Regions from separate parts of the Homo sapiens genome. Here regions 2, 3, 4, 5, 6 and 7 are each reported to be linked to region 1. Evidence: microRNA targets listed by miRTarBase, many of them from high-throughput screens and not tested one by one. Region 1 holds a microRNA gene; each other region holds the end of a gene's coding sequence. Distances are between the middles of the regions.

The links. The annotated mature microRNA hsa-miR-2355-5p reads AUCCCCAGAUACAAUGGACAA and lies in region 1 at 1,464-1,484, shown strand. An mRNA with a match to its seed (bases 2 to 7 or 8) in the 3' UTR can be bound and repressed. Matches are read on the target gene's strand: a 7mer-m8 pairs with bases 2 to 8, a 7mer-A1 pairs with bases 2 to 7 and ends in A, and an 8mer does both.
Region 2: miRTarBase lists PTGR2 as a target of hsa-miR-2355-5p. The part of its 3' UTR that is shown has no 7-base or 8-base seed match.
Region 3: the mRNA of ZNF649 is a reported target of hsa-miR-2355-5p. Seed matches in the 3' UTR shown: 7mer-m8 at 1,006-1,012.
Region 4: miRTarBase lists VASP as a target of hsa-miR-2355-5p. Seed matches in the 3' UTR shown: 7mer-m8 at 516-522 and 7mer-m8 at 587-593.
Region 5: miRTarBase lists ZFP30 as a target of hsa-miR-2355-5p. The part of its 3' UTR that is shown has no 7-base or 8-base seed match.
Region 6: miRTarBase lists ANKRD36 as a target of hsa-miR-2355-5p. The part of its 3' UTR that is shown has no 7-base or 8-base seed match.
Region 7: miRTarBase lists CACNA1A as a target of hsa-miR-2355-5p. Seed matches in the 3' UTR shown: 7mer-A1 at 3,433-3,439.

What each region holds. Positions count from the first base shown.
Region 1 is chr2:207,107,449-207,111,526 of GRCh38, reverse strand. MIR2355 (microRNA 2355) reads left to right here and starts at 1,454; the gene lies at 1,454-1,540. The region is part of intron 2 of KLF7 (KLF transcription factor 7); the gene reads left to right.
Region 2 is chr14:73,883,619-73,887,618 of GRCh38, forward strand. It overlaps PTGR2 (prostaglandin reductase 2), which reads left to right. Exons shown (of 10, transcript NM_001146154.2): 10 at 483-2,108. The coding sequence ends at 559. ZNF410 (zinc finger protein 410) reads left to right here and starts at 3,241. Exons shown (of 12, transcript NM_021188.3): 1 at 3,241-3,297. RefSeq lists enhancers at 1,490-1,599, 3,231-3,300 and a silencer at 2,901-3,180.
Region 3 is chr19:51,887,345-51,891,422 of GRCh38, reverse strand. It overlaps ZNF649 (zinc finger protein 649), which reads left to right. Exons shown (of 5, transcript NM_023074.4): 5 at 1-2,188. The coding sequence ends at 805. ZNF577 (zinc finger protein 577) reads left to right here and starts at 3,472. Exons shown (of 6, transcript NM_001370449.1): 1 at 3,472-4,078. ZNF649-AS1 (ZNF649 antisense RNA 1) reads right to left here and starts at 3,398. Exons shown (of 3, transcript NR_110733.1): 1 at 3,297-3,398. RefSeq lists an enhancer at 3,348-4,078.
Region 4 is chr19:45,525,853-45,529,930 of GRCh38, forward strand. VASP (vasodilator stimulated phosphoprotein) reads left to right here. Exons shown (of 13, transcript NM_003370.4): 12 at 94-151; 13 at 288-1,131. The coding sequence ends at 325. It also overlaps a transcript of OPA3 not described here. Among named protein-coding and RNA genes, the nearest start is that of VASP, 20 kb to the left of the region's middle.
Region 5 is chr19:37,631,685-37,635,762 of GRCh38, forward strand. ZFP30 (ZFP30 zinc finger protein) reads right to left here. Exons shown (of 6, transcript NM_001320669.3): 6 at 1-4,078. The coding sequence ends at 3,297. Among named protein-coding and RNA genes, the nearest start is that of ZFP30, 22 kb to the right of the region's middle.
Region 6 is chr2:97,249,437-97,253,514 of GRCh38, reverse strand. It overlaps ANKRD36 (ankyrin repeat domain 36), which reads right to left. Exons shown (of 76, transcript NM_001354587.1): 74 at 3,870-3,963; 75 at 3,342-3,371. The coding sequence ends at 3,348. Among named protein-coding and RNA genes, the nearest start is that of ANKRD36, 140 kb to the right of the region's middle.
Region 7 is chr19:13,203,546-13,207,623 of GRCh38, forward strand. CACNA1A (calcium voltage-gated channel subunit alpha1 A) reads right to left here. Exons shown (of 47, transcript NM_001127222.2): 47 at 2,897-4,078. The coding sequence ends at 3,768. Among named protein-coding and RNA genes, the nearest start is that of IER2, 55 kb to the left of the region's middle.

The sequences.
Region 1 (4,078 bases):
CGAATCTGATGGCTGCTAGTCCCCCAGCAGGGCTGCTGCTAAGCCACAATATGCTTTTGTGTGAATTAGAAAAAGTACCCTTTGCGTGGGGCAGCTTCCCTGTGCTTGAGGAGCAGAGCCAGATTCAGCCCCTCTCAGCCTGTAGCTGGACACCCTGTGCTCAAAACCTTATGTGGCCTGTGCGCACTGGGAGAGCATTCCACACAGATGGGCCTTCCCTGAACTTTTAAGAACTTCTGAGGCTAAGAAGGGCATAGCAGGAATGGGAGAGTCACACAATGGTTCAAGGAGGGTATCGGGACATCCTGTCAATGTCTGAAGAGGCCATTATGTGTGACAGCAAATCTTTTGGTCCAGCCACTCTCCCAAAATGTGAGATCATTAGTTGCCTAATGTGGTGGTTCTCAACCAGGGGAGATTTTTTCCCTCAGGGAACATTTAGCAATGTCTGGAGACATTTTTCATGGTCATATGTGGGGTTGGGGGTATGCTACTGGCATCTGGGAAGTAGAGGGCAGGGATACTGCTAAGTATCCTACAATGCCCAGGACAACTTCCACAGCAAAGGATCATGTGGGCCCAAGGGTCAACAGTGCCAAGGTTGAGAAACCCTGGCCTAATGCAACCTTAGCTGTCTTCTTCTCTGTAGGTTGCTCTGATCCACTTGCAAAACGTTTCCTAATCCTTTTAAGATGACCTACCCACCAGGTCTTGCCTTCTTCCCTTTTATGATCTTTAACAATATTGACTAAATGGAAATATTGCATTATTTATTATTTCTGTCAGGATTTAGATGATGTGCCGCTTTTCCCCTTATGGTAAGAAAGAAATCTCCCTACCTCCACTAAATGCTTAACCTTCTAGATTGAAGATTCGTGATTGTGACTCTTCCTGAGCCTCATGCCCTCCCCTTTTGCAGAAGGCTCCTGACCTGTAATAATTTGAGATTTTGCTGAGGCAGAGGTCTGATCACATCAGCTGCCAGGCTGGTACGTGGGAGGGAGGTGCTTTGCCAGGAAATGGGCCTAGCTGACCACGCACTGAAGAGCCACACCATCATATGGTATTGTCATTCTCCCCCTGGGTACAGTGGCCTTGCTGAAATGTAACAGTTGCTTCCTCGTTACCAAAAAGAAGATTAACTGTTAGTGAAGAAATAAGAGTGACGTGCTTTCCGTGGGAAAATAAAACTTTTATTGGTAAAACTGTATATTGCGCTGGCATTTGCTGCCTCAGTACATTTCCTACTATTCACTGTTCTGGTTCGCACCAGCACCATGAGGAGCATACTGGAAGCTTTCTGAGTTCTTAGGGAGAAAGGTGCTATTTCAGGTAAAAGGATTTAAATTGCCTTATCTAATGGACACATACTTTATGTCTGCATTTTGTCAGGAGCTGTGAATTATGCATTGGCCCTTTCAGCTACATTCACGTGCATAGAAAATAACATTGTCAGACGTGTCATCCCCAGATACAATGGACAATATGCTATTATAATCGTATGGCATTGTCCTTGCTGTTTGGAGATAATACTGCTGACTTTATTCCTCTCATACATGTGAATGTGGCTGTAGGGAGCACGTGACATCTGTGGCTTTTACATGTATTAGCTTATCCCTTGCCACTTGAAGAGATTGCCATTAGTGAGCTGGCCTTGTGGGGTCATGCTAAGTGCCATGTTTTGGATCACAGTTGTTATCGGACCTTAGTTTTAGATCCAGTAGGGAATTAGTAATATTATCTTGATGGCCTGAAGATGCAGTGGGTTACTTAGTCAGCTTCCCAGAGCAGATGTGCTAAAGAAAGGGTAAGCTGAGGCGTTCCTACTCAGATCAGCTTTGGGAGTAAGAAGGCAATTGGGTACCAAGCCTGGGAATGGCTGCTTCTATGTTAGTGCATTACCCAAGTAAGCAATAATAATATCACTTGTATTGATCTTTACAGTTGCCAAGTGTTTCACATACATCCTTCCATTTAACCTTCACTTACCGATGAGGTAAGTCTTCTCATTATACCCATTGTACAAATAAGGGAACTGAGGCTGAAAGAATCATTTTTCAAAGATTTCACTGCTGAACCATCACAGAGCCTGCCCTACTCTGTTTTTCCTTTAGAGATCAGTTATTTCTTTTGGGGGCCTAAGTTGAAACAATATAAATGAATTCAGTTTTGTTTATGGTTCAGAAAAATAAATGGCTATTTGTTGTTATTTTACTTGTTCAGTATAACTACTAATTCAGAATAGCTAAGAAAACTGAGTGATTATCTTGTATATTCCTACATTCTGTCTATTTTGGTTGAACTTAAGAATCCTTGATCTTAGTTGGTTTTCCCCTATTTTAAGAAAGAAAGCTGGTTTTGAAGATGCAAACAAACGCAAGGTATTGATTCTTGAAGTGGTATCTCAGTACTACTGCATTTGCATATTTTAGATAATTCTTGATGAGAAATAGCAAATAGAAACTTTTCTCTGAACCCCTTGAAAGAATGCATCTTAGCAATCCTCTTTATTACTAAGCTGGAAAACCCAAATGGAGATGCCTTAAAGAATTCAAAGGAATCTATGGATGGGTGGATCTTGGTGTATGAGTTGTATGCTCCTCTCAGTTACACCAGAGCTTTGCTAGGTGAGGTTGAAGAAATGATTTATGTGCCTTTATTTTTGTTTGTATGATAAGTGTGGAATTCAGGATAATTTTATTTTATCTTTGTTTTTGCCCAGTTGAGGATATTTATAATGGGTTAGAAGTCGTAAGAATAAAAACCCTTGGTAAATACAGGAATTGTAAATCTATTCATTGGCAAAGATCCCAAACTCAGGTTATGATTTTGCTTGTTATGTGCAGCAGTCTCTCCTCTGAATTCAGAAAAGCACACAGTGAAGAAGAATAGCTGCTTTCTAGCATTCTGCCAAAAGGATCTACAGGAACCTCAGAGTGATGGGCATTTATATTATATCCAGAGATCTGAGGAAAGAAAAGGTATTAACACCAAAAGACAAATTCCTGGAAGGCTGAAGGAATAACACACATTACCCCTGAGGGCTCCACTCTTTTGAGGATTGTTTGTCTGTAGATATTTTTGTGTGTGATCCTGTGTTCCTGTACATCTTTGTATTTTCAAACTTCCCCTTTTTATTTCATTCTACCTGCCGTGGAAATAATCTTAATAAGTCGTTAGAATTGGCGGGGCCCCCAACCCAATTTGATAATAGCCTTTTCCTTGCTGATAATTGGCTACTAAGCATTTAGAATGCTTTCAAATCCACCTGTGTATCTTTCTCCCCCCTCTCATGGTTAGATGTTAAAGTTTTTGTTTTTGTTTTTATTTTTGTTTTTGTGGTTTTCCTGGTGTGCACCTTATCCAAAAAGAATAGTTAATGAGCAAAGCCAGAAAGAATCCTTTGCAGCCAGGGAAAACTTTTCATACATCCTTCCCACTCCTGTCATTGTATGAGCTACAAGGACCATAGGTACAAAGCTTGTGGGATCAATTACCACAAGCTCACCGTTAAGCATTTTTTTAAAAATCTGTTGCGAGAAGAGTAAAGCAATAATTAAAATTAACTGAACAGCTTTTGCTCTATTGAGGCGTTAAATCTTTGTGTAAACACAATCACGTTGTGCAAACATAGGTCTTTTTAGTTGGGTGATTTAGACAGCGAACCCACTGAAGTTTTGAGGTCTCTGGGTCAAGGGTCCGTTTTGACACGGTTTGAGAGGTCACCTGCTCATTTGTGTCTGTGTTCTGCTGCAGAGAGAACTGTGAGCTGGTATGGTTCCTTGCCCACCGCAGCACAAAGAAGAGCCGGCTGGCATTTGGCAGATAGCGGTCTGTGACGAGGGGGAAGGAAATTGCACACAAAGCAAGACGGCTGCACACAGGAGCCGGTGGGGAGTGCTTAGGAACCTCTGGGGCCCAGGCAATGATGCGGCTTGAAGGTGGAGAAAACAGCAGTTATAAAATATAAATGTGTTTATTATTACACTGGGCCTATGCTATATAATTTTACACACACTCATATTTGTGATTTACGGCCGCAGCTCCATATGGAGGAGAAGCTTGCTAATTTACCCAA
Region 2 (4,000 bases), not on the chromosome of region 1:
GGGACTACAGGCACACACCACCACTCCCAGCTGATTTTTGTATTTTTAGTAGAGATGGGGTTTCACCATGTTGGTCAGGCTGGTCTTAAACTCCTGACTTCAAGTGATCCACCCACCTTGGCCTCCCAAAGTGCTGGGATTACAGTCGTGAGGCCCCATGCCCGGCCTTCACTCACATTTTATTCCCATTTTTTTTTGCCTCTAGTCTTCAGATACTGTAAACAATGAACATTGATGTGCATACCAGTTAGATACCAATTAAATCTTTCCAGTATGGGCAAAACATTTTTTTAAGATGTTAATTGGGTTAGTTTGTGTGTAACTTTTTACTTGAGATTTCTTTTCATGACCATTTTCTTCTATGCTTAATATTCAAAATCATTGAAAAAGTTATTTAACATAATTTTATATGTTGTACCTTTTGGAAACAAGTATGATAGTGACATTTATCTTTTCAGATAACCTACTTTCTCTTTTTCCAGCTGCATTCCAGTCCATGATGACAGGAGGTAACATTGGAAAGCAGATAGTTTGCATTTCAGAAGAAATCTCTTTGTAATTGCTGTAAATGTCATCAAGGCAATCATAGATTTCTTTTCCATTTTGCATATTTTCAAAGATATGTTAAAAAATCCTTAGACTATACATAGCTCTTGATTTAAATGTGATCATAGGTGTTATTTTTAGTTGCATAGGGTATTTGATACAATCATTAATGGATCATACACAATAGGTTTTTAAAAATTAATAACTTTTAGTAATTACTTTTATTAATTTAAAATAGAACGCTTGAGAGGCACTTTGTAAAGATTTGTTAAACTGGAAACGTTTTACATGATCTGATACAACCATTAATGAATCATACACAATAGGTTTTTTAAAATTAATATTAATAACTTTTATTAATTTAAAATAGAATGCTTAAAATAAAATAGAATGCTTGAGAGGCACTGAGTAAAGATTTGTTGAACTGGAAATGTTTTACATGATTCTTAAACTGAAACTTGGTGTAAAAATAGAATTGAGATGGCCTTTTTTTCACATTGTAGACTGAAAAGAGACTTAATGGTATGATGTGTACATAGGGACTGGGGGCAGGATTGGGGGTTTCGGAGCTTGTGTAACAGTTTTTGGGATAGGAGACCAGCGGTTTTGGGTTGGGATTAGTATGGGAAGATAAATAACTTAGGTTGGTTAAGTTGACAAGATTTACTCCAGAGGATCATCTCTTTGTATTTGCCAAATAATTTACTGTATAGCCTAAAAACTCCATATATATTGAGAAAAGCATATGTTTATTTTAGGTTAGCAGGCACATACTGTCAAGTTGTAAAGATTGAGAGGGCAAACAGATGTAAACATCACTTGTAGGTGATTAAAAAGATTGACAGCCGGGCCTGATGTCTCAAGCCTGTAATCCTAGCACTTTGGGAGGCAGAGGCGGGCAGATCACTTGAGGTCAGGAGTTCAAGACCAGCCTGGCCAACACGGTGAAACCCCATCTCTCTAAAAATACAAAAATTAGCTGGGCGTGGTGGCACACGCCTGTAATCCCAGCTACTCAGGAGGCTGAGGCTGGAGAATCATTTGAACCTGGGAGGGGGAGGTTGCCGTGAGCTGAGCTTGCACCATTGCACTCCAGCCTGGGCGACAAGAGTGAAATTCCATCTCAAAAAACAAAAACAGATTGACAACAAAGACAGTTTCAGAAAATGACAGGACTGGGCAAATTAACAAATGTTTGTAAACATGAATGTTCAGGAACTACTGATGTACCTCAAAAGTTTGTTTTATTAATTGTACTCAACCCTCGCAGAACAGTAAAACTGAAGATTATTGTTTCTGAATGTTTTGGCTTATGATTGTCTACACACTGCCAATATACTTTTGTATGCAACATTTGTAATAAGTAGATTCAAACTGTGTTGGTAATCAGCCTCCCCAGTTTTCGTGAGTGGCCCTTTTTTGTTACTTTTCCTGGACCATTTCATCGCCTGAGGGGGTTTCACTTTTCTCTGTATGTTGCTAACTCCCAAATCTCCATCTGTATTTCTGACCTCTTTCTTGAGCACTGGACCTTTACCTCCAAGTAAATATCCTCAACTCTGGATTGCATCTTATACTCTGCTTTTTTCTTTTCTTTTCTTTTTTGAGATGGAGTCTTGCTCAGTCGCCCGGCGTGCAGCGGCACGATCTCGGCTCACTGCAACCTCCGCCTCCCGGGTTCAAGCGATTCTCCTGCCTCAGCCTCCCGAGTAGCTAGGATTACAGGCGCGTGCCACCACGCCCGGCTAATTTTTGTGTTTTTAGTAGAGACGGGTTTTCACGGCGTTACCCAGGATGGTCTCGATCTCCTGACCTCGTGATCCGCCCACCTTAGCCTCCCAAAGTGCTGGGATTAAAGGCGTGAGCCACGGAGTCCGGCCTACTCTGCTTTTCTAAAGTGGAATTATCTTCCTCTGAAATGTTTCTCCTTTATTTTAAATCACCATTAGTAATTTGTGTACCCAAACCTGTCATCAAGGCTTATCTTTAACCTTGAAAATGCCTTTTTAAAGAGAACTCCTTTAATTCCCACGGTTGAGTCTCTCATTCTTCCGCACGCAAATATTTTAAAATAAGTAATTTCAAGAAGTCAGTCAAACTCACAAAGCTTTAACAAGGTGGCATCCAGCTTGGAAGTCAAGTGTTCAAGCCCGCAGTCGGGACATCCAAGAGCTCTTTACATCCTAATTACAACACGGAACCCAGACTCACTGCATACCCCGTCCCGTATATAATGCAAAACTTGATTCTGCAAGTTCCTTTCTCGGGCGGTGAAACTTCGAAGGTCCTCTCCATGGAGACCTTTGATAAATGTTTAAGCAGTGATCTTTTCTTTCGCGTTTGCCTCCATTGCAACGCCTCCGCTGATGGGAAAAACTACTCCCTCCGCTACTGCGGGGTGGCAGTGACGTCAACGAATTAGCTGACCTGTTTTTTCGGGCTTCGCGGACATAGGAGTCCCGAAGGCCGAGAGTGAGTGAGTGAGTGGGAGCGGGGCGGCTGCGGCTCCTCCTGTCCGGGGCGGAGCCCTGCGTCGCGGGCCTGGGGAGGCCCCGCCAGCACCCTTGACGTCTGGGTCCCGAGCAGTGCGGCAGCCACACGACACTGAGGCGAGCGAGTGGGTGTGTGCGTGGGGGGTCAGCCAAACTTCCTGTCCCGCGCTCGAGCTGCTTCCGGCGGGAGCCGGAAGACGCTGTGTGTGGACGGAATTCGGGACCGACTGACGGCCGGCCGGCTTCCCGGAACTGGAAGGTGAGCTCCGAGGTGGGCCTGGCCACCCCTCCTCGGTTAGGTAGTACCCGAGAGGGCGGGGGCCAGTACCGGCTACTTGGGGCCTGGGGCCGAGTTCGCCCCGAGAGAGGAAACCGCCCTCCTTGGGCATCCCTCCTGGATCTGGCGGGCCCGGGAGCGGCCAGTCTGAAGCCCTGCGGCTTTGGCCCTTCCCCTCGCGGGTTTTTAGGGGCGATGTTCTTGCTCCTTTGCTTGGTTTTGGGGGTAGGGATATAGGAACAGACTGTCCTGAGAAAGCCAGAGTCAGCGAGTCCCCGGGGCGGGGGCTCTTGGACTGCACCCGCAGCCGGGGCCTGCCTACGGACCTTGGGGCCTTATTTCTGAGGCCTTTGTGGTGTGGGGTAGAGGATGCCAGGAGGCCTTGCCCTGAATGTTTCAGTCCAGAGCTACCCTCTCCTTTCATACCACTTACTTTCTGGGTTTGGAAAAGGGACAGCTGCCTACTCGGCTGGGCTGGGTCGCCCGTTTCTCCTTTGCCTGTCAGTTCGGGGGGCAGGAGTGTGTGGATTGTTTACGGCCTTCATACATTTCGTGTCGAATTTATTTTCTGAAGTTTCTCAAGATAATCCAATTTATTAAAGTTTATCCCACTTGATCATGAGGCTCAGAAATGCATTTAGGCACCATTTGGAAGTTAAATATTATTAACTTGGGACTTAAGAAT
Region 3 (4,078 bases), not on the chromosome of region 1:
GTGTGGGAAAGCCTTCTACAAGAGGTACAGGCTCACTGAACACGAGAGAGCTCACAAAGGAGAGAAACCATACGGGTGCAGTGAATGTGGGAAAGCCTTCCCCAGGAAATCTGAGCTTACTGAACATCAAAGGATTCACACGGGAATTAAGCCCCATCAATGCAGCGAATGTGGGAGAGCTTTCTCCAGAAAATCACTACTCGTTGTACATCAGCGAACTCATACAGGAGAGAAGCCTCATACATGCAGTGAATGTGGAAAAGGCTTCATTCAGAAGGGCAATCTCAACATACATCAACGAACTCACACTGGAGAGAAACCTTATGGATGCATTGACTGTGGCAAGGCCTTCAGCCAGAAGTCTTGCCTTGTAGCACATCAGAGATATCATACAGGAAAGACTCCCTTTGTATGTCCTGAATGTGGGCAACCCTGTTCACAGAAGTCAGGACTCATTAGACATCAGAAAATTCACTCAGGAGAGAAACCCTATAAATGCAGTGACTGTGGGAAAGCCTTCCTTACAAAGACAATGCTCATTGTACATCACAGAACTCACACGGGAGAGAGACCCTATGGCTGTGATGAGTGTGAGAAAGCTTACTTCTATATGTCTTGCCTTGTTAAACATAAGAGAATACACTCAAGGGAGAAACGGGGGGATTCAGTGAAGGTGGAAAATCCTTCCACAGCAAGTCACAGCTTAAGTCCTAGTGAACATGTGCAGGGGAAAAGCCCTGTTAATATGGTAACTGTGGCAATGGTGGCAGGGCAGTGTGAGTTTGCCCACATCCTGCATTCATGATAAACAGTTTGCTGTTTGATCATATAGCCTCCAGCGGAATGCTGAGTTTGTCATGTCCCATGGGCCTTTGGCTCCCTGCACTAATATGTATAGTAGGGTTTACAAGATATGAAATATATTTTACTTTTTTATATCTTATAAACCTCACTACCCCTCCCACAATATTGTTTTTCATTTACTATCTTGATCATAGAGTTTGGCTGGGGAGGGGGGCAGTTTTAGAGGCTTCCACTTGGTGTTCCTCAGAATGATATCTCTTACTCCGGGGGCCAAGGTAGGGGTTAGCTTTTGTTCTCTTTGTAGTTTAGATTGTATCTCTTGCCTTGTTCAAGTTCACAAATCTTTTTGTGTATACACATATGTACATGAAAATGATGTTCATGCTTTTTATTATTTTACCCTTCATTATTTCATTTTTTATAGTTCTCATAGCTATGTCTTTCAGTTCACTAATCTTTTTTCCACAGTGTTTAATCTGTCATTAATCCCATCCAAAGTATGTTTTCTCTCAGAAATTGTAATTTTTAACCTCTAATAATTTGACATGGGTTTTTCCCTGTTATATCTTTCATATCTTTATTTATCATGGTTTTACTTTTAACCTATTTATGCTTTCATATTTAAAGTGGGTGTTTAGTGGGCAACATACAGTTGGGCCTTCCTTTTTTATCCAGTTAACAATCTCTGTCTTTTTACTGGGGTATTTAGATCATTTACGTTCAATGTATTGATGTTTTTAGGTTTAAATTACTAACTTACTATTTGTTGTTTATTCTATGTCTTCTTTGTTCTCCTTTTCTTCTTTTTCTGCTTTCCCTTAGAGTAGCTGAGTGTGTTTATATTACATATTGTCTCCTTTGTTGGCTTATTAACTGTAAATCCTTGTCATTTGATTCCTTGAGATTTTATAGCATACATCATTGTGAGGGATTGCATATTTATGTCCTCTCCAAATTTACATGTTGAAGTCCTAATCCCTAAGGGATGGCATTAGGAAGTGTGACCTTTGGAAGGTAATTACATCTTGAAAGTGGAACCCTCATGATGAGATTATGTGTCTTATGAGACAACACAGAAGAGAGTTTGTTTTCTCTTTCTCTGCTCTTTGCCATGTGAAGACAGAATGAGATGACCATGCATAAACCAGGAAATGGACTCTCACTGGACACTAGACCTGCCAACACCTTGATTGTGTTTTAGAGTCCAGTTCTAGAGACTCCTCAGCCTCTGGAACGTGAGAAATGAATGTTTGTTAAGGCAGTCAGTCAGTCTATGGTGTATTTTTTCTAGTAGCCTGAACTGACTGAAAGAAAATCATGAACTTATCATTCTAACTTCAAGGACATTATATCACTTACTGTATAATAAAATAATCTTACAGTAGTATATCTCTATTTCCTGTGACCAGATCAGTGTCAGTGAAGAGATTGTCTTCTAGATGCTACTGGAATACATATTTGAGGTATGGGTAATCTTGATTTTACATGATAAATTCATTCTAGCATTCCAAACTCCATTTATCTTTGGGTACTTTATAATATATGAGGAAATTTCTGGCATTTAAACTTCATTTAGTGTAGGCAAATTTTGAGTCCAAGTTTCAGTCAACCAGCCAAGTCAACAGTTAGCACCACTCAATTTAGCTCACACACTGAAATTGCCAGTAGAATGTAATCTCCATGAATGAGAGTCTTTGTGCCTGAATTTCCAACTGTTGTATTCCCAGCACGCACAACAGTGTTTGACACATTAGGCATTTTATAAACATTCGCTGGATAAATGAGTGAATGATCAATCCCTTTAAAGGTTCTCTGAGGCTGGTTATAAAATTATAGGGAGCAGGTTTGGTGCTAGAATTCATCAGTTAATTGATCAGCTGAGTTTCAGTATTGAACAGAATCATCTCCCCTTCAGAGTTTTGATTTCAAGTTGCTCCCACCTTCCTGGATGTAAAGGCTTGTTCTGCCTTTGGCTTTTCCAGGGTGAGAGAGCCCTGTTTTCGTGTTGGTTCCCCACTTTGTCAACTGCTGATCAACTGTGTTCTCCATTCTCCACACCAATTATAACCAAAGCTTTAACACGCGGTTGTTTTATCCATTCTATGACTGACTCCTTCCTCTGAGGCTACATCTGATGTAGATGTAAAGATACTTCTTAGGCAGTTCTCAAAGGCTGCTTTCTCCAGCCAGATGCATCCTCAGGAGTAATAACCCCTCCGATTGTTGCTCAGGTCCCTCCCTCTTGAAATTCCTGTAAGACTGCCGCGCCACATGGTTTCTTTCCATTCTTCTTAGGATCAAAGTGCCTAAATGTCTGTGACCATCTCTACCCATCCTGTAGACAGATCAGGGCAGGCTTGAGCCTTTGAGAAACTAAGCAGTTTATGTAGCGCCCCTGGCTAATGTTGCAAAGCCAAGATCTAGCAGTTCACGTGGACTGGAAAAAGGGTGAAATGGGTCGTTTTCAATTGCTTTTCATCGTCAGAACCTACCTGTCTTAAGGCGCGAAAAGAGGGACTCCGCCTGCTCTACGGCAGTAGGGTTGAAAATGGCTGCTCCCAGCAAGCGTCCCCTGGGCGCAGACATATTGCATCATAAAGGGACGGCTGGTGCCGTATTCCGTGTCTCCGGAAAGACGCAGTATGGCCCTCGCCGGCCGCCATCCCCGAAACTTGCGAGTGTCGCGTCTGCAGTGTGTGGGGTTCGCGGGGCGGCGGGTAGAGGCGAGTGTTTAGAGACTTCGGGTCCCTGACTCGCCTCCAGCAGTGGAGACAGGTCATCGGTCTGGTCTGCGTGGGCTTCTGGGAATGTTTCAGGGGCAGGGAGAGCGCGCTTTTTTTTTTCTGTTGTTCGCTAGCGCGTGAGGTCCGTGTTGCGGGGAGCTCTCGGGGAGTCCTCGCTCGGAGTTCGTTTCGCAGTCGTGTTGGAGTTCCCAGAGTCTGGGAGCCCATGGTCTCCGCATTGGAACCAGTGCTTGGGAGGTCTTCGTTGCACAGTAGCGCTAGGGCGTCGTGGTGGGGAAGCGAATCGTGTCAGTGTTGGAGACTGCTCTGGGCAGTTCGTGTTCATTGCTTATCACATGCGTACTTAAAAAGGGGTCTGCTGGTCCCCTTGCTTCCCTGCTGCTGTATATTCTGTAGAAAATGGGTTTTCAGGTTCATTGCGACCCAAGTAATAACATCCCCATCATTTTAAATACTCCTCCAGAAAATAACTCTGGTTTAGTGTATTTCATGTTTAATGTTGGGATCAGGTGTCTAGGTATTGGTATAAT
Region 4 (4,078 bases), not on the chromosome of region 1:
AGCAAGGTTCCTTCTCAAAAAATAAAAGAAGGGGGATTCATTCCTGCAAGTCCCGGTACCCCCTCCTGATTAGTTTTACCCCATTAATTTTAGGAGCTTCTGGAAGAGGTGAAGAAGGAATTGCAGAAAGTGAAAGAGGAAATCATTGAAGGTGAGGTGGTTTGCTTTGGTTTTGTTCTTAAACATTTACTTATTTTGGAGGCATCATGTCCCTGGGCAAGAGCCCTGTTTTGGAAGGGAGGAGGCAGAGACTCTGCCCCTGACCTCTGCTCCTTGTTTCCTTCCAGCCTTCGTCCAGGAGCTGAGGAAGCGGGGTTCTCCCTGACCACAGGGACCCAGAAGACCCGCTTCTCCTTTCCGCACACCCGGCCTGTCACCCTGCTTTCCCTGCCTCTACTTGACTTGGAATTGGCTGAAGACTACACAGGAATGCATCGTTCCCACTCCCCATCCCACTTGGAAAACTCCAAGGGGGTGTGGCTTCCCTGCTCACACCCACACTGGCTGCTGATTGGCTGGGGAGGCCCCCGCCCTTTTCTCCCTTTGGTCCTTCCCCTCTGCCATCCCCTTGGGGCCGGTCCCTCTGCTGGGGATGCACCAATGAACCCCACAGGAAGGGGGAAGGAAGGAGGGAATTTCACATTCCCTTGTTCTAGATTCACTTTAACGCTTAATGCCTTCAAAGTTTTGGTTTTTTTAAGAAAAAAAAATATATATATATTTGGGTTTTGGGGGAAAAGGGAAATTTTTTTTTCTCTTTGGTTTTGATAAAATGGGATGTGGGAGTTTTTAAATGCTATAGCCCTGGGCTTGCCCCATTTGGGGCAGCTATTTAAGGGGAGGGGATGTCTCACCGGGCTGGGGGTGAGATATCCCCCCACCCCAGGGACTCCCCTTCCCTCTGGCTCCTTCCCCTTTTCTATGAGGAAATAAGATGCTGTAACTTTTTGGAACCTCAGTTTTTTGATTTTTTATTTGGGTAGGTTTTGGGGTCCAGGCCATTTTTTTTACCCCTTGGAGGAAATAAGATGAGGGAGAAAGGAGAAGGGGAGGAAACTTCTCCCCTCCCACCTTCACCTTTAGCTTCTTGAAAATGGGCCCCTGCAGAATAAATCTGCCAGTTTTTATAAATGCTAAGATCTCTGGAGTGATTTGAAGGCCTGTTCTGATGGGGATGGAGGTGTGCTCGGCCCCCGGTGCCCCTCCAGGAAGATTTGGTCCTCTGCTGAGAACCCCTGCCTCCTCCCAGGAATCCACCTTCCCTTCATCTTCCTTCCCACCCTGCATATTGCGCCTGCTCACTCATCCTCAGGCCCGCAGCCAGGATGATCTCTGCCCCCTCCAGCCTCCCTCCCCATGCCCCTTAGGAGGCCACTTCCTCCCCATCCCACCCTGCCCTTCACCACCCTAGGGGAGGCCAGAAGCAGCCTCACTTTGTGTAGCCTTGGGCAAGTCCATTTGCTTACCTCAGGCCTCAGTTTCTGATTTGGGAAAGGGCTCATAAGATGATTCTCTGCCCCCACTCTACCACTCTCCCAGCTTCTTTCCTCTTTTTTTTTTTTTTTTTTTTTAATGAGTTGGAGTCTTGCTCTTTCACCCAGTCTGGAGTGTAGTGGCAGGATCACAGCTCACTGCAGCCTTGAACTCCTGGGCTCAAGGGATCCTCCTGCCTCAGCCTCCCAAGTAGCTGGAACTACAGGCGTTTGGTATGACGCCTAGCTAATATTTTCATTTTTCGTAGAGATGCGGTCTTGCTGTGTTGCCTAGGTTGGTCTCTAACTCCTGGCCTCCAGCAGTCCTCCTGCTTTGGCCTCTTAAAGTGCTGGAATTACAGGCGTGAGCCACTGTGTCCGGCCTTCTTTCCTAATTTCAATGACATTTTGCAGACGCACATTATGGTTCTCAGACACGTTCTTAAGATCTTTACCCCAGAGCTCCTTTAATTAGAAAACGCTGACAGTCGATTTATAAAGTAGCATTCAGAGTCACAGAGCTCATCCACGCCCCCTTCAGTTGTCGGGTGGGTAGGTCATATGGCCTGGTGGAATACCCCGCTTGGACAGGGGGACCTCTGGGCTGAGGGACAGGTAGTCCCCCTGGAGGAGGCCTTTGCGTGAAGGAGGGCGGAGGAGGACCTGGACCAGTCCAAAGGCAGGAAGGAAGGGCGATCCCTGCGTACCGTGAGGGGCAGATTTGGAGGGAAGTTGGGCGAACTGACGATGACTTAGGTAGTAAAGGGACAGGCCGGTCCCTAGCAAAGGCAACTGAAGAGGACAGCGAGGGAGGACCGGATAAAAGGACAGTAGCAGTAGGTCCAGGACTGGGGACTGGTGACCAAGTGACTGAGCCTGAAAGCCAGAATGGACTAGCCCTGGTCAAGACCGGTTTTTCCTCCCAAAAGGCCACGTCCTGCTGGAACAGACCACAGAATGCCGGGCTGGGAGGCGTTTCCCTGGAAGACCCAGCATAGCCATGCCAGTGGGGTGCGCCATAGGTGGAAGAAGAGGGGGGTTATGTTGGATCGATCCACTCAGGGAGGGGAGGATGTCAATGACAGGTACTAAGATGGATTAAGGTCAGGAGCCGCAGGGTGGTGACTCATTGGAGCTAACGCAGTCCAGGATTCACCCCCACCTTTCCCCCTAAGACTGAGGTAGATGGAAGGGGGCGGGTCGGGAAGTCCGTAGGAACTTTGTGCATCTTTACAATGGTCTGTACCAATGAGGAGGAGGTAGGTGGTGTTCGGTGCAAAGGATGAGCGTCCTAGGGGAAGGGTCCACTCAGGTGAGTGAGGGTGCGGGTGACAGAATGAGAGGTGGCTAAATCCGGGTGCAGAATTTTGTTTTGCCAAAAGAGGTGGACGTCCTGCTGGCCTACCTAGCGGTAGGGAGGTGGGGTCTGATAAAAGACGCTGTCTTTCCAAAGTGCTCAACAAATGCGCTGGCAGGGGCGGGGTGGGATAGGGCGGGGTCCTTCTTGGAACGTTCCACCTGCAGGAGGCGGAGAGTCCCAGTGGAAGGTACCACTGGGCAGGTTAGTAGGGAGGTTCGATCAGCTCCAGCCCAGGATCTCTCCGGCGCCCCCGAAGGACTGGGTGGTGTCAGCTGGGCCGGTCCAGGATGGGACAGTGCGGAGAATAGGCCAAGACAGAGACTTCGCAGTCCAGACAGCAGTCACCTCCAAGACCAGGGCCCCGAGACCTCCTATTTCTCGGACGCCGGCGCAACTGGGGGTGCAGGCGGCGGGTCTCGGAGGCAGAGGTGGGCTCGCACCTCCTGCAGCTGAGCGCGCAGCTCCTCCAGGGCGAGCTGCGTCGACGTCGCCTGCACCTGCGCCTGCAACTCCTCGAGCGCCAGCCCCAAGTGGCCCACCTCGCCCCGCAGCGCCTCCCTGGCAACACGTCGCTCCTTTTCCTTGCGGCGCTGCTGCAACTGGTGGCGCCAATACTCCAGCATCAGGCAGCTGCAGGCGGTGATGAAGATGATGCCCTCGCCCAGCAGCTCCGCGCCCAGCTCGGCGGCTGCACCCTCGTTCAGCGGCTTGATGGCAGCGGCATTGAAACCCATGATGCGCATTTTGGTCCGCATCTCCAGCCAGTGGTACACTGCAGGAAAAGACAGGAGTCAGGGGTCTTTTGCAGGGCAGCCTCCTATAAGCCCCGACCCTCTGTGCTTCGATGTCCCCGTTGTAGCAATGGGGATGTGGTCACCACAATCGGACGCGTGCTGGCGGGGACGCCTTAACGAAGACAAGTGCAGGCCTCACACCCAGAATCCTCTAGGGAAAACTTCCTTAACTAATGACTTACTCATGTGAAGGTGGAGTGTCAGCTTTTGCATCGTTATAAACACAGAAGATGCTGATGCTCTTTTTTTTTCTTTAATTTTTCTTTTTTTGAGCCAGGGTTTCGCTCTATCGTCCAGGCTGGAGTGCAGTGCCGAAATCACAGCTTACTGCAGCCTCGAACTCCTGGGCTCAAGCGATCCTCCTCCCGCCTCAGCCTCCAGAGTAGCTGGGACAACGTGTGCGCGCCATCATGCCTGGCTAATTTTTTAATTTTTTGTAGAAATGGGGGCTC
Region 5 (4,078 bases), not on the chromosome of region 1:
AAAAAAAAAAAAAAAAGACAATAAGCATGAATTGAGATGATACTGGGCCAGAATCGTATCTCTTTTACTATCATTATGATGTTCTGAAGGTAGAATGCCTAGAATCTAAATATATAATTAAAGCTGGATGGATCTGGTCCAAGTTATTCCACATAAATGATTTTCTATTCTAAACTGTTGGATATAATTTCCCATAGAAATTAGAATTACCAGATTTCTCTTCATACGGAAAATGTCTAGATTTTCGTTTTGCCAGCCCTCCTCACCTAGTTCTTATAATCAGTTTTAGGTTAGTCTTGTAGAATAGTATGTTGGAAAAATTTAGCAATTACCAATTCTTCAAAGATTTTACTTGTAAAAAATTAGGTTCTCGGAGTCTCTCTGAGACCACTCTGGCTCAGGAGAGTAGGATTTTTTTTTTTTAAAGTTAGATTCTAAATGTATTCTTTTAGAAAGCGTATCTTCTAACCGTCTTAATTTTTCATTTGTTTGTTGGTCTACTCAGGCTCTCTTCATTCAGCATGTGAAGTCAATTTTAGTAATTTTTACCATAAAATAATTCTGGATTTTCAATATTTTAAAATACATGTATAGTGTGTGTATAAATATAAATATATATACCTACACACTATACACACACACATTACATATATGTAGTATAGCAACTTATAACTTTAAAAATCCATAGCTGTCACTTTTATCATTCATATAGCTGTAGCTGTGTAATCTTTCATATTTCTGTGATCAAAACTGCAAAGGTCTTGACTATATTGGTATCTTTTAAAGAAACACACACAAAAAAACCAAGTCTACTTTTTATTGTTTATGCCAGCGCTGACAATAGAAATACGTGAGCTACATATATAAATTTTCCTATAACAATTTTAAAAACAAAAAAGTGTTATTCATTTTAATGTATTTTATTTGAACCAATATATCTAAAATATTATTTCAATATGTACTCAATATGAAAAATTGAGATACTTAACTTTTTTAAAATAACTAAGTCTTCAGAATCTTGTGTTTTACAAAAAAACACCATTTGAATTTGGACTAGCCACATTTCAGTGCTCAATAACTCAATTTCAAGTGCTCAACAGGTTGCTAGTGACTACCATATATTAGTACAGGTCTAGTCCATTATTTCCCACATTTAGCAGTAGTAATTGCTTTCTTTTACTCATTCTTTAAACATATGAAGTGAGAGTCGGGCATGGTGGCTCACGCCTGTAATCCCAGCACCTTGGGAGGCCAAGGCAGGTGGATCACCTGAGGTCAGGAGTTGAGACCAGCTTGGCCAACATGGTGAAACCCCATCTCTACTAAAAATACAAAAATCAACCTGGTGTGGTGGCGGGCGCCTGTAATCCCAGCCACTCGGAAGTCTGAGGGAGGAGAATGGCTTGAACCCGGGAGGCAGAGCTTGCAGTGAGCCGAGACTGTGCCACTGCACGCCAGCCTGGGCGAAAGAGCGAGACTCCGTCTCAAAAAAAAAAAAAAAAAAGGTGCATACCATGGGTACTATAATATAGAGATAGAGAGGTCAACTAAATAAAATGTGGACCTACATTTTAACTTCCTGAATACATTATCGTCATTATAGTGTAATTAATATTCCAATCCCAATGTGTAGAGCTTTGGCAACATCCACAAGTTTTAATATGTAGAAATTTTCTTTTTTTCTTTGAGATAGAGTTTTGCTCTTGTTGCCCAGGCTGGAGTGCAATGGCGTGATCTCGGCTCACTGCAACCTCTGCCTCCTGGGTTCAAGTGATTCTCCTGTCTCAGCTGCCCGAGTAGCTGGGATTACAGGCGCATGTGACCACGCCTGGCTAATTTTTGTATTTTTAGTGGAGATGAGGTTTCACCATGATGGTCAGGCTGGTCTCGAACTCCTGACCTCATGATCTGCCCACCGGCCTCCCAAAGTGCTGGGATTACAGGCATGAGCCACCGGGCCCAGCCAGAAATTTTTTTTAAAATAATTCATTTTAAACTGGCTATAATTTCATGGATAATTTGATCTTTAAAAGAACATCATGGAAAATTTTAAATACACAAAAGTAGAATAGCAAAAACAAAACAAATAAAAACCATGTATCCAAGACTTAGGTTACCATCATTTTGCCAAACTTGTTATTCATCCTCATTTTTCTTTTGTATGAACAAAAGGACATTCCAGATATATCATCTCCTGTGTATAGACTTCAGAAATTATCTCTAACAAATACACTTTTACATAACCACAATGCTATTATCACACATAACAAAGTTTCTTAATATTATCTAATATTGTCAATATTCCATTCTCCCAATTATTGTTAAGTATCTCTTCTTTTACATGTTTGTTCAACTCATGATCTAAGTAAAAACCACTGTTTCATTGCATTTGACTGATGTCTCAAGTCTGTCAATACCTAGGAGTTCCACCTTATTTCTTAAAATGCCATTTTATTGGTTGGGAAACCAGGTGATTCCTCTTGTAGAATTACCCTTATTTTAGATTTAATTGCTCCTTTTTGTGTCATGTAATTTACTCTTCCATTCCTTGAATTTTCTCTAAACTGGGAGTTGGCTCTTGAGGCTTAAATTCAGGTTCAATATTTTTGGCAAGATGTGTATATCTTACTGTAGCACATTAGGAGGCACGTAATTTTTACTCTCTTGCTTTTTGTGAAGTTGAGATGATGAGTGGGTTCAGACGTTGTCAGTCTCATCTATTCACTATAAAGTTCACAACCTTCACTGAATGGTGTCAACCTGTACAGAGAATCATGCCTAGATCCATTATTTCATTATGTGTTACACAATAGTTTTTCTAATATAATTTTCTATTATTCTTTCTGCATTCATTAGCCTGGAATTTTCTAATAAAGAAGAACTTTACCTCCTTAACTTCTGGTTGCCCTGAAATACAGTTCCTACAGGAAATGCAGACTAAATGACTTTCCTTTCATTTACACATTTTCAGAATGAAGTGGTTCCCTAGCAACCTTCGTGTGTATATACACAGATGGAAGAATATGGAGATAATAATAGGTAAGATCAAAAGCTTTTCCACATTCAGTCCTGTAATAAAGTTCTTTTCTAGGATGAATTTCCTAAAGTTTAACATGGTTTCAAAGGTGATGAAAGGCTTCTATATGTTCATTAACATATTCTTTCCTTTAAATAAAACTTCCTATGCTTAGTTGTGAGCATGAAGCAAAAGGGATTCCCACGTTCAAAAACCTTTCCTCTAGAATGTACTTCCTATGCTCAACATAAAATTCGCAAAGGAAGAGTTCTAATAATTATTAAGTTACATTATGAATTCGCTGATGGTAAGTAAGATGTGAATGTTGTCTAAATGCCTTTTTACATTCCTTACATTTGTATGGTTTCTCACCAGAATGAATTCTCTGATGTTGAATCAGTGATGAATGAAGTCTAAAGGCCTTTCCACATTCCTTACAGTCATAGGGCTTTTCACCAGTATGAATACTTTGATGTTGGGTAAGTTGTGAAAGCAGTCTAAAAGTCTTCTCACATTCCTTACACTTAAAGGGTTTCTCACCAAAATGAATACTCTGATGTTGAGTAAGCTGTGAGAACAGCCTAAATGCCTTCCCACATTCCTTACATTCATAAGGTTTCTCTCCAATGTGAATACCCTGATGTGAAATAAGTTCTGAGTAACGACGAAAGAACTTCTGACATTCCTTACATTCATAGGGCTTTTCACCAGTATGTATTCTCTGATGGAGAGTTAGATGATAGCCACGACTGAAAGTCTTCCCACATTCCTTACAATCATAAGGCTTCTCACCAGTGTGAATTCTCTGATGGAGAGTAAGTTGCTGCCGCACTCTAAAGGCCTTTCCACACTCCTTACATTCATAGGGTTTTTCTCCAGTATGAAGTTTGTGATGTAGTCGAAGGCCTGTACTACACAGAAAGGCCTGACCACATTCCTTACACTCATAGCACTTCTCAGCAATGTTCAGTCTCTGATGTCGAGTAAGGTGTGCATACTGCCTAAAGGCCTTCCCACATTCTTTACATTCATAGGGTTTCTCACCCGTGTGAATCCTTTGAT
Region 6 (4,078 bases), 110 Mb from region 1:
CTGGAAAGATGATTCCCCTCACAATTGCTTGATCTTGAGTATTTTTATTTTTGTGTTAAAGAACTGATGTTGGTTTGTGTACACTGAAATAATGGGGGGAAGCTCTGTATGGAAGGAAAAGAAAGTTTCCTTTCTTTTCTAGAGCCGTCTGTTCAGGTTATCGGAGTCTCCCTATTCATGGGATGAGTGTCCACAACAAACTCCACAATCCTGTGTCTGCTCATTGAAGGTATGTATCAGAGTGACACTTGGAAGCATGGTATAAAGAGGAAATATGCATTTGTCAAATGAAAAATTAAAATATAAGAAAAAGTTTAAAAGGAAAAACAGAATGAGAAGGGCAGGGGCTTGATTAGAGTTTTGTCAACTGGGACAAACTTTGCAGTTTTAGTCAAATATTGCCATCTTTCTAGTGGAAGACTTTGACATGTAAGTTCTAGATTATACTTTCATTTATAAATAACTGTGTAGCTTAATGAGATGGCCCCTGTTAGTATCTTAGGCCATCTATTGAAGGTTTACTAAATTCTTCCAAGGCACGTGAGTCTGCTCCTCAGCAAAGCAGTGACAAACCTGCTTTTCCCTGGTTTCCCCAACTATGTAAAACCTTATTAAAGAATTCCTGAACAATATAAAGTTCCCTCAGCAAGACGGAACTTCCCAAGCTCTTGTCTCAGGAGAGAATGTGGATTATAGAAAGATTGTGGGTGTGAGTGGAGTGGGAAGTTATTTAGGTAGTAAGATTTTCAGGCTCGGTGCAGTGGCTCACACCTGTAATCCCAGCACTTTGGGTGGCCGAGGTGGGCAGATCACAAGGTCAGGAGATGGAGACCATCCTGGCTAACAGGGAGAAACTCCATCTCTACTAAAAATACAAAAAAAAACTAGCTGGGCACCTGTAGTCGCAGCTACTCGGGAGGTTGAGGCAGGAGAACCGCGTGAACCCAGAAGGCGGAGCTTGCAGTGAGCCAAGATCTCGCCACTGCACTGCAGCCTGGGTGACAGAGCCAGACTCCGTCTCAAAAAAAAAATAATAAAAAAATAAAAAGTTAAAGAGGCCAAGAAACATCATTTAAAACACGATATAAATTTTCATCAGACATAAAAGATAAAAAATATTTTCATTTAATAAATACTTTTGCATGTCACACATTTAACGGGAAACAAAATATCATGTTAACAGCCTAGTAATACAATTTTATTGTCTTAGATTTTTTTCGTCAGCATGTATTCTTTCTGTTTTGTTTTGCATTTGAGATGGAGTCACTCTGTTGCTCAGGCTGGAGTGCAGTGGCACGATCTTGGCTCACTGAAACCTCTGCCTCCCGGGTTCAAGTGATTCTCCCACCTCAGCCTCCCGAGTAGCTGAGACTACAGGCATGCACCACCACACCCAGCTAATTTTTGTATTTTTAGTAGAGACAGGATTTCACCATATTGGCCAGGCTGGTCTTGAACTCCTGACCTCAAGTGATCCACCTGCACTGGCCTCCCAAAGTGCTGAGAATACAGGCATGAGCCACTGCAGCCAGACAGCACATATTCTTGTTATGCTTTTAAAACTAGTTATTGATTTAAATTTTACTCATTAGTAGATTCTAGTGCAGAAGCTATAGAGCAGCAGTCCCCAGCCTTTTTGGCACCAGGCAGCAGTTTTGTGAAAGATAATTTTTCCACAGATGGGGGTTTGGGGGATGGTTTCAGGATGGTGATTCAAGCGTATTACATCTATTGTGCACTTTATTCCTATTATGACTACATTGTAATACATAATGAAATAATTACACAACTCATCATAATGGAGAATCAATGGGAGTCCTGAGCTTGTTTTTCTGTAACTAGATGGTCCCATCGTGAAGAGATAGGAGACAATGACATATCATCAGGCATTAGAGTCTCATAAGGAGCATGTGACCTAGATCCCTTGAACGAGCAGTTCACAGTAGGATTTTCACTCCTGTGAGAATCTAATGGCTTTGCTGATCTGACAGGAGGCAGAGCTCAGGTGATAATGTGAGCAACAGGGAGTGGCTGGAAATACAGATGAAGCTTCACTCGCTTGCCTGCCACTCACCTCCTGCTGTGCAGCCTGCTTCCTAACAGGTCATGGAACTGTGTGTGGCCTGGGAGTTGGGGACCCCTGCTATAGAGGATTCAGATTTAAATTCAGAAGTTAGAATGAAAAAGAATTATATTCTTTATCTAAATGATTTCACAGTTAACTAAGAGAAAGTCAGTATATGCTGAAAAGCTTATCAGTGTTAATAAGAATGAAAAATATGTACAATATGCAATTACTATTAAATATAATTTGCCCATAGTTGCACACCGAATTCATTATCATGGCAGTTAAGTATCAGAGCTTCTGGTTTCTCACTCTTCGTTCATGTATTCAGCAACCATGTGCTAAGGTACTAGGACAAGCACTGGAATTACAAGATAAAGATGATACGGTCCGCCCCTCAACAACTGTATGCTATAATCTGAAAAAACAAACAGGCAATTCCCATACAGAGTCATACATACAATGACAAGCATAAGACAGCACTTATTGGAAGACATAGAAGGGATACTAGCCCAGGTTTGTGTCAATATTGTAGGCTTTTTGGTAGAGGCAATTCATAGGTTGATATCTGAAGGGGAAGGAAAACACATGTAGGATAGAGGGAAGAAGTAAATGCAAACAGCTGGAGGTGAAGACGATCACTGTGGAGCTCCATGTAGTCTAGTTTGGCTGGATGCTAGAACAAAGGTGTAGAGTATGGTAAGTGGCGAAAGATAAGGCTGAATAACTTGACAAGAACCACACTGATGTGAGAGTTTTGATTCCATGCTAAGGAATTTTCAACTTTTCCCAGGGGCAAAAGTAAACCAATGACAAAGTCAATGACTAGAGATTTAAAATGTCACTGGTCAAGTGACTGCTTGTGACCTGTAATTGCTTAACTAATTATTATCACATGAGTGTGGGGTCTGTTAGCCTTAAATCACTACCTTAACCTTGAGAAGTTGATAATGCCTTTGTTTTGTGAGAACAGTTTCAGTGTGCAGGCTGATAGTCTATAGGGGTGGCAGAAGAAAAGTGTAGGGCCAGAAAAAAAGGGATACACAGATTTCTTGCGATTTTTTTAAAGCTATGAAACATGATGAATTAACAAAGCATAAGTATACCCTTCACTATGAATGTTTATGTTTTCACATCTTTCACTAGATGTGTGTAAGAAAAAATATTTAATGTAGCATTTATTAACCAAGCAATTGAGAGGGAATACCGTTCACTACTTAGAGTTTATTTCAGAAATCAATGATTTGAATTTAATTCATAAATTTTGGCAACATACCTTCATCTAGCTCTCAAACACCTGCAGCATCTGAAATAAATCAAATATTACTTATAATGTTTCAGTCAAACAAGAGACATTATCATGTAAACCCACTGTAAGTCAAGGAGCATCTGTACTGTAGATTGATCATCCCTAATCTAAAAATCTGAAATCCAAAATGCTCTACAATCTGAAACTTTTTGAGCACGGACATGACACCACAACTGCAACGTTCCACACCTGACCTCATGTGACAGGCTCTGGGGAAAACAGTAAAAACTTTCTTACCTGCAAAAAATTACTGTAAAACATTGTAGAGAATTACCTTCAGGCTATGTGCATAAGGTATATATGAAACACAAATGAATTTCATGTTTAGACTCAGGTACCATCCGCAAGATATTTCATTAGGTATATACAAATATTCCAAAATCTGAAAAAAATCTACTTTTGGTCCCAAGCATTTTGGACAAGGGATATTTAACCCATCCTACTGGAAAAATAAAATTCCTTTTCAGTATGACAGAAATTAAGAGATCAGCTTACCAAACTTGAATGCTGCAGGATTTTCTCAAGCCGCTCAATTTGGTCATCCTGTTTTTTAATAATTTTTCTCATCATCACATGTTCTACTTCAAGCCTAAAATGTGCATTTTAAAATAATTACTCTCACACGTAATTTTTTTTAAATCATGTAAATTCTAAACAAACTTCTGAAGGTATAATTACACAAATTCTTAGCAATCACAAAAGTA
Region 7 (4,078 bases), not on the chromosome of region 1:
ATGCGCCACTACGCCCGGCTAATTTTGCATTTTTAGTAGAGATGGGGTTTTTCCATGTTGGCCAGGCTGTTCTCGAACTCCCGACCTCAGGTGATCCGCCCACCTCGGCCTCCCAAAGTGCTGGGATTACAGGCGTGAGCCACCACGCCTGGCCAATTTTTGTATTTTTTGTAGGAATGGGGTTTCACCATGTTGCCCAGGCTGGTCTCGAACTCCTGGGCTCAAGTGATCCTCCTGCCTCAGCCTCTCGAGTAGCTGGGACCACAGGCATGTACCACTACACTCTGCTTTTTTTTATTTTTAGTAGAGACAAGGTCTTGCCATGTTGCCCAGGCTGGTCTCGAACTCCTGAGCTCAAGCAGTCCACCCACCTTGGCCTCCCAAAGTGCTGGGGTTACAGGCGTGAGACACCGCGCCCGGCCAATGCCTGGGCTTTTGCACCTCAGGGCATTTCTTTTTCTTTTTTTTCTTGAGTCTCGCTCTGTTGCCCAGGCTGGAGTGCAGTGGCATGATCTCGGCTCACTGCAGGCTCTGCCTCCCGGGTTCACGCCATTCTCCTGCCTCAGCCTCCTGAGTAGCTGGGACTACAGGCGCCTGCCACTATGCCCGGCTGATTTTTTGTATTTTTAGCAGAGACGGGGTTTCACCGTGTTAGCCAGGATGGTCTTGATCTCCTGACCTCATGATCTGCCCGCCTCGGCCTCCCAAAGTGCTGGGATTACAGGCTTGAGCCACCGCGCCCGGTCACCTCAGGGCATTTCTATGACAATCATGCCCTTCCAACCTTCCAGGTGATGAGGCTCAAGCAATGGCCTGAGAGTATGTGAGACTGGGGACTAGGCCAAGCTCCGCCCCTCTTCCTCATCCCCTGATCTTCCCACCCTGTGTCTCCTGGGCAACTAACACTCTAGCCTGATGATGTGCACTGTGGAGGCCTTGGGTCTACCTCTTGGCACTCGGGCATAGACTTGGCCTTTGAGTTCAGGGCTCATGGGGGGCTTCGGTAGTGAACTTCATTCCTGGGAGGACAGATGGCTGCAGCCTCATTGACAGCAGAGGGAATTGCACAAACCCTGGCTTACTCCAGTGGCTCCTGGACACACTCAACCCCAGCACCATGGGAGGGGGACCAGAGGCCAGCTCTGCAATGGATGGGCAGCTTGTTTAGAAGCCTGTGGTGGTTGCCAGATTGCCTGGTTAGAAAGTTAAACCCCTCCCTCCCTCCCTTCCATTCCATTTTTTTTTTTTTTTTTTTTTGAGACGTAGTCTCACTCTGTCGCCCAGGCTGCAGTGCAGTGACGCAATCTCAGCTCACTGCAACCTCTGCCTCCCAGGTTCAAGCGATTTTCCTGCCTCAGCCTGCCAAGTATCTGGGAATATAGGCATGCACCACCACACCTGGCTAATTTTTTTATTTTTAGTAGAGACAGGGTTTCACTATGTTGGCCAGGCTGGTCTCAAACTCCTGACTTGGTGATCTGCTCACCTTGGCCTCCCAAAGTGCTGGGATTACAGGCGTGAGCCTCTGTACCCAGCCTTAAAAAAAACAAACTTTTTTTTTTAGAGACAGCGTCTTGCTATGTTGCCCAGGCTGGTCTTGAACTACTGGCCTCAAGTGATTCTCCCAAAGTGTTGAGATTACAAGAGTCAGACACCGCACTCGACCTCAAAACTTTGACTTCTCGTTGGACTGATCTTTTCCTAGATGCCATTATTTTATTTATTTATTTTTACTTTTAATTTTTTTAGAGATGGGATCTTTCTACGTCACCCAGGCTGGAATGCAATGGTTATTCACAGGTGTGATCATAGCTGGTCTTGACCTCGTGGGCTCAAGTGATCCTCCTGCCTCAGCCTCCTGAACAGCTGGGACTACAGGTGTGTGCCACCACATTTGGCTTACCATTATTTTAGAAGGACTTACACCTGTCTTGCTATCTGGAGTCTGCAGATTTCTTACCCAAGGTAAGCTCAAGCAGGGCCTGTTGTCTGGAACAAGACCTGTTCAAAATGTTTGCCTTAATGCTACAGTAGTAATGGTGATAGTCAATAGTAGCTTGCTATGGGTCAGGTACTGTTGTGAGAACAGAAGCTCTCAAAGGGGTATTGGACTCTGGGGATGGCTGAAACACTTCGTGGGGGCGGGGGTTGGTGTCCACGAGACCAAATTATTATTATTAATTATCTAAGATGGAGTCTTGCTCTGTCACCCAGGTTGGAGTGCAGTGGCACGATCTTGGTTCACTGCAACCTCCGCCTCCTGGGTTCAAGCAATTCTCCTGCCTCAGCTTCCCGAGTAGCTGGGATTACAGGCACCCACCACCACGCGTGGCTAATTTTTGTATTTGTAGTAAAGACGGCGTTTCACTATGTTGGCCAGGCTGGTTGTGAACTCCTGACCTCATGTGATCCACCCACCTCGGCCTCCCAAAGTGCTGGGATTATAGGCGTGAGCCACCGCGCCCTGCCTTTTTTTTTTTTATTTTGAGACAAGAGTCTCATTCCGTCACTCAGGCTGGAGTGCAGTGGTGGGATCTTGGCTCACTGCTAACCTCCGCCTCTCAGGCTCAGGTGATTCTCATGCCTCAGCCTCCGGAGTAGCTGGGATTACAGTTTGTGCAACCACGCATGGCTAATTTTTTTTGTATTTTTAGTAGAGATGAGGTTTTGCCATGTTGGTCGGGCTGGTCTCGAACTCCTGACCTCAAGTGATCCATCTGCCTTAGCCTCCCAAAGTGCTGGGATTACAGGCGTGCATGATGCCCGGCCTCCTTGTCGCTTTCAAACAGTGCTTCTAGGAGCTAACAAAGAAGTGCCTCTTTGTATGATTCCCCAAGAGAGACCCACCCAGGCAGCACCTAGCCAAGGGACAAAGACCACTCCTATCCAAAAGCCCTTTGATTCAACTTTTTTTTATTTTTTTTTTCTTTTTGAATGTCATGCAATAATTCACAGTCCCAAGCCCACGGTTTTCAAACAAGGTAGGAAAAAAGGAAAAAAGAAGCAAAGGAATCGGTGGTGATGGTGGGTTTTTCTTCTTCTTTTGTTGTTTCAAGCAGGACCAAATGTCAGAAAAAAATGCCTCTTTTCTCAATCATTAATTTTTTTGTCCTTTTTAAAATTGTTTATTGTTATTATTATTTTTTTAAATTGATTTCTGCAGGCAGTAATAGTAGGGTTTGGTATAACCGGCAAGCACTCTTGTGTGTGTCTGAGAACGTGTGTGGGTGTGAGTGTGTCTGGTGGTGGGTGTAGGGCACTGGGATTCTGGTTCCTTCTGGCTTCTTTGCCGCACTCGGCCACCAGCTGTCTTCATCAGGGAAAGGAAAGATTCAATTGAGATGATAAAACTCATCAATAGAAGCTATTTTTTTCTCCCCGTTTTTTCTTTTAAAAATGTTTTTTTTTTTTTTTTTTTTTTTTTTTTTCATGTTCCCCAAAGTTCTCCAAAAATGGCTGAGTTAATTCAAATCCCTTGGCTGTGTGGTTTGTCTGCTCCCTGCCTCCCACCCGAGAGCCCCTGTCGTGGGTGGGGGGATCGGGGCTGGTTGGGGGGCGCCGTGGCTGCCCAGGAGGGTCTCTTTTGGCCGAGGGTCTCTGCGGGACACCCTTGTGGCCCAGCCCTGGCCTCTCCAGAGTCTGGGGTCTCCCGGCTGGCCCTCTCCCGGGCCCTCTGTGCTGGGCCCCCGCGGCCTCTGCGCGGCTCCTCGGGTGGGGTGTGTGCGTGGGGTGCGTGGGGGGCCGGGCGGGCGCCACCTCGCCCGGGCTTAGCACCAATCATCGTCACTCTCGCTGTAGGGTTCGTGCAGGCCCTTCCTGGAGCCCGGCCCGCGGGGCCTGGCCAGTCCGTGCGCCGGGTAGTAGCCGTTGGGGAGTCGCCGGCCGTGCCGAGAAGGCGAGGCGCAGGCCGGGCCCGAGGCCCGGGGAGTCCTGGGCGAGCGCCCGGTGGCGCCCGAGGACGCGTGTCGTACGGGGGGTGGCGCGTCGTAGGCCCCGGCCATGGCCTCCTCGCCGCCCCCGCTGCCCGGGCCATCGGCCTCGTCGTAGTCGGAGCCCCGGTAGTAGCCATGGTGCCGGG